2 separate regions of the Homo sapiens genome follow, and region 2 is linked to region 1. The links come from fine-mapping of genetic effects on gene expression. Tissue or cell type: whole blood. Region 1 holds a variant in brackets; the other region holds the start of a gene. All regions are shown on one strand. Distances are between the middles of the regions.

Region 1 (2,695 bases):
ACTTTTTCACTCCTAACATATTGCACTCAATGTAATGTTCTGAAGATTCATTCACTTAGTTGCATGTGTCATAGTTAGAATTTTAAAAAATTATCAGTAGTTATTGTAAAGATACACCACATTTTACCTAGGATTCAACAGTGAATACACATTTGGGCTGTTTCCAGGTTTTGGCTACTATGAATGCATCTGCTTTGTCATGTTTCCTCTTTGGTAAATACCTGGAGTGAAATTCCTGGGTCATGGCTGCACATCCTGACCAATAGTTAGTAGTATCCGTATTCTTAAGTTTAGCCATTTTAATGGATGTATAGTATTATCATCTCAGTGTTGTTTTAATTTGTATTTCTCAGTTAACTAATGATGCTGAGCATCATTTAATGTGCTTATTAACCACCTGTGTATCCTCTTTTGTGAAGTATATATTAAAAATGTTTGTCCATTTTCAATTGAGCTGTTTTAGTCCTTATTTTGCAGCTGAAAGAGCTCTCTGTATATTCTGGAAAAACTTCTGTTGTTGAAAAAATTAATTTTGATTTTTTACAAACTATTTATTGCTTTTTTATTTCCTTAGTGGCCTCATCCAAAGAGCAGGAATATTCAATTTTTATGCACTCCAATTCATCAAAAAAGTTTTATGTTTCTTGCTTTTGTGCCCTAGGAAATCTTTGCTAAAGCTACACATTTTCTCCTATGTCTTTGATTAGAATTTTTTAAATTATAGCTTTAGTATTTAGGTCTGGAATCCATTTTGAATTAATTTTTGTGTTTGTTGAGAGGTGAGAGCTGATGTTCATTTTTTTTCTACAGAGATACCAGGATCATTAGTTGAAAAGACTATTTTTCCCCCACTGAAAACATTTTGTGCTGTTTTCAAATATAAAACATAGTTTTCTGGGATTTCTATTTTGTTGCATTGATTATAAAGAATGTAATAATTGTGGTACTAATAAAAATACATTAAAATTTTCTAGTTATGCTGAGGATATAGTTTTTACATAGTTTTATTTGCTGTTCTTGTAGCTATATATTATTTTGGAGAAGTATGAGGAGACAAGGATTTAGGCAGCCTCTTTAGCCTTCAACTATCCTTTTTACATAAAACTTAGAATCACGGGCCGGGCATGGTGGCTCATGCCTGTAATTCCAGCACTTTGGGAGGCCAAGGTGGGCGGATCATGAGGTCAGGAGATTGATCTCTACTAAAAATACAGAAAATTAGCAGGGCGTGGTGGCACGCACCTGTAGTCCCAGCTACTTGGGAGGCCGAGGCAGGAGAATTGCTTGAACCCAGGAGTCAGAGGTTGCAGTGAGCCGAGATCACGCCACTGCACTCCAGCCTGGGCAACAGAG[C/T]GAGACTCCGTCTCAAAATCAAAACAAAACAAAATTTAGAATTACATTTATAAGTTTTGTCAAAAATTTCTCAATATTATCATTAATAAACAAATTCAGTAATGTGACAGACTGCAAGATCAATACAGAAAAATCAATTGTACTTTTGTACATTAGTAACAAACCTGAAAATGTGATTAAGAAAACAACAGCATTATAACCAGGAATAAACTTAAACTAGAAATAAATTTAACAGAAGAATTATAACACTAATGCACTGAAAACTACAAAACATTTTGAAAATAAATTAAAGAAGACATAAATTAATGGAAAGATATCTTGTGTTCATGAACTGGAAGACTAACATGGTTAAGATGGCAATATTTCCCAAATTTATCCACAGATTCAATGCAATCCCTGAAAGAATCCCAGATGGCTTCTTTATAAAAATTGAAAAGTTGATCCTAAAATTCATACAGAATTCCAAGTTCCCTTAGATATTCTAAACAATCTTGAGGAAAAGTAACAATTTGGGGGAACTTACAGTTTCCAGTTTCAAAATTTACTACAAAGCAGCAGTAATCGACAGTGTAAGTATGACATATAAATCAATAAAATAAAACTGAAAGTTCAGAAATAAACCCATCATTATGGTCAACTAATTTTTGATAAGAATGGCAAGACTATTCAGTGGGGGAATAAATAGTATTTTCAGCAAATGGCGCTGGAAAAATTAGATGGCCATATGCAACAAAATGAAATTAGACTGTTACCTCACACCATATACAAATATTAACTCAAAGTGGGTAACAGAGCTAAATTTAAGAGCCAATGCTATAAAATTTTTAGAACAAAACATATGGATAAATCTGCATGACTTGGCAATGGACTTTCATATACGACACCAAAAACATAAGCAAAAGAAGTAAAAATAGATAAATTGCGCTTCATTGAAATAAAAAGCATATGCTTAAAAAGTATCAAAAACAGCAAAAAGACAATTCATTTCCTATGATTCTCAAATAATTATAAGAACATGAAGAGAGAAGCAATTTTACATATAAATGCAAGTAACATACTCACTCCCAAAATCTGTTTTAATAATTTTACTTGCGTTAGTAAACTTGTGGTTATTATAGAGTATTTCTGAGTCACACTTATACTCATGTTCGGGTTCAAGGTTTTCTAATTTAATTTCTTTATTATCAAATATCATATTACCTGAAATAAAGAAATATTTCGAATGAATATATCGATGCAATATTTCACGCACACATTTATTTTCTAATTTCACATTTATAATTCTCTATTTAATATTTATCAGATTGAAACATCTGTGGAAATTACCAAAATAATAAAAAAC
Region 2 (2,695 bases), 72 kb after region 1:
TTCCCTGACTTTCAGAGGAAAGAAGAACGGTAAAAGTCAAAAAAAGACTTCAAAGTGAATTGTAATAAGCAAGTTGTTTTAAAATACTTTTTATACTTTTTGGAATTTCTACAAAAATTTTATTTTCAATGTCCTTTTAGATACTACATCATAAAGAGAAATATTAAATATTAATTATTAGTTACATTCTATAATCTATTGAAATGTACTCATGATTCATATTGACGCCGCTCAAGAACTATCCATTGAATAGACCATAAATGTGCAAAGATTTCAAACTTTAATAGGCACTGGAAGTCCAACTAGTTGCATTTTCCTACTGAATACAGCATTTGCATGATTTTTAAGAGTTTAAATATTTCTATCTCATCAAGGCTGTAATATTTACCCACCACCCAGGAAGGGCGGTGGCTCCACAAGAATTTCTAAAGCAAAAATGTATTAAAACTATTAACAAGAAACTAAAAACTTGATTTAAAATACATTCTGTGATAAAAATTGCAGAAAGTTAATATTTTACTAAATATCTCAATATATTTTTGAACTATTATATACCCAAGTATTCAATAAAATATGTCAATTAAATTCAAAATTTGAGGAAGCAAACTTCAGGTCTGAAAAGAGGGAGTGGCTTACATACAACCAAAGCTGTTTTATGACTTTTTAAAAGATCAAATTTGTTAAAAGAATAAAAACTCACTTATTTTATCATTAAAAAATTCTCAGGCTTTTATAAATGTGTGTTATTGTCACTTTGGAAGTTAAGTAATAATGTTGCTTTTGTAATATCTTTGAACAGTTGTAAATAAAGATACAGATAGACATTGCTTTCCTTTTAAAATTGTATTTTTTGTCCCGAAACATTTATGTCTTTGTAAACAGAAACAATGTATTCTGTCACACAACTAGCTATGTCTCCCTGAGACAACAATCTTGATGGTTTACAGCAGGCTTCTCACTTCCAGTTACCAACACATTTAAATTATTTTTATGTCTATTTCAAACATTCCTCCAAAAGAGAAAAAATAATTTAAAAAATATTAATATCCTTGTACTTACCTGTCACAAATACTTCTGTGTCCAGAAAGGCAAAGCCAAATGCCAAGAGTTTAAGCCACAAATACATGGTCATATCTGGAAGTCAGCCGTGTCCCTAAGAAACAGCATGCGTCCTTCTGAAAAGCAAAATAATTGTTATCTCTGTAGAAGTTTTTCTCTGTAAAAACGAATCAAAAATGTAAAAGTAAATAAATAAATGCATACTCTCCACTGTTGTCTTATCAGACGAGGAACAATTTCCTCCTCTGTTACCCTAAGAACAAACCACTTGCTAGCTGCATGAACTGCTAGGTGATGATGTCAGATTCGGTTTTACTAACTTCTCCAAAAATACTGTAAGGGTCCTCTTTGCAGGAAGTCAAAAAAGTTGTTCTAAGTCAGTAGAATGGCATTGCACTTCCTTAATTCAAGTAATTACACCAAGTTAGAAAGCCTTTTAAAAGATTTTCCCATCAAGGAAGATGTTTTTAAACCATCCAAATAATGCTCCTTTACAGTATCCATTACCATTTTTTTTAAATTAAATCCCCACAAAATAATCAATAATTTTCTTACTTAAGAGATGACAAACAGATTCAGCATAAGTATAACAAAATGGGTGTTGGCAAGATGACTTAGTAGAAAGTATCAATATTTGACTTACTGAGACGGCCAAATGAATGAAAAAACTACTAATCTGGTTATTTTTGGCAACCCAGTATCATTTACCATTAGGGCATTCAAAACTCAGCAATATGACAGTTTTAGCAGTAAAACCCATTTCTTATGCAAAAGCACTTTCAGACAGCTTAACAGTTTTGCCCCAAATCTTTCACAGATATCCTTGTGAAGCTAGGAGTGGAATCAGAATGTCATTTCTACTATAGTTACAGCAAACCCTGCTTCCAAAAACTAATGTTTCTGTGACTTAAGATGTTCTTGGCGCTACTGATGAGGGAAAGGACAGTGAAAACCAAGAGATACCTTTAACAAAAGTTAACTTGTTTCCTTTTTCTCAGCAATACTTTTTCAACTTTTTTAACAAATAAGACAATGAATTGTATTAACACAATGCTCTTCACCATTCTGATGTTCTTAGTTAAGTCCATCTATTAGGAAAATGCTTACTGGCAAAAAGTATAAATTCAACAATACAATTAGATGAATTGGTTTTATTAATACAATATCTATATGCCTTTAAAAATAAAAGTACACACATGTGCAACTCATTTATTTGAACAATAGATAATGCTTGGGGGACTTTTAGACAGACAGAGCCCTTGTGGTAATTCTGCAAACCCTAGTTTGGAAGCATTATTGTAGGGTTCTTATATTTAAGTAAATAAATCTTTTGATACTTACAAACTTTTTTGTTTTACTCTTACATTGGCTGCTAGGAACTACAGAGCCAAATTTCTATCACACTTTGTGCAAATGGAAATAACCCCACAGCTTAAACTCTAGGTAATAACCTTTTAATAAGATTGTAGTTAAGAATATTATTTTACTATGATTATTATTATATTTAACTTATGGAGCACTTACTATGTGCAGGAACTATGCTTTGCACTTTACATATATTGTATAATTTGTACGATACCCTTGAGCTAGATAATGTTATTATTCCCCATTTTATCTGTGATGTTCAGAGAGGTTA

What was found. PIP is the estimated chance that this variant, and not a neighbour inherited with it, causes the effect.
Region 2: it holds the start of PTPRC, and the variant in region 1 is fine-mapped to the expression of PTPRC in whole blood (TOPMed, PIP above 0.99). The same link has a PIP of 0.9 or more in lung.

The regions. Positions count from the first base shown.
Region 1 is chr1:198,709,545-198,712,239 of GRCh38, reverse strand. It overlaps PTPRC (protein tyrosine phosphatase receptor type C), which reads right to left. Exons shown (of 33, transcript NM_002838.5): 11 at 2,416-2,553. Among named protein-coding and RNA genes, the nearest start is that of PTPRC-AS1, 44 kb to the right of the region's middle. The variant C/T (reference allele first, on the strand shown) is at 1,354.
Region 2 is chr1:198,637,706-198,640,400 of GRCh38, reverse strand. It overlaps PTPRC (protein tyrosine phosphatase receptor type C), which reads right to left and starts at 1,361. Exons shown (of 33, transcript NM_002838.5): 1 at 1,264-1,361; 2 at 1,060-1,175. The coding sequence starts at 1,132.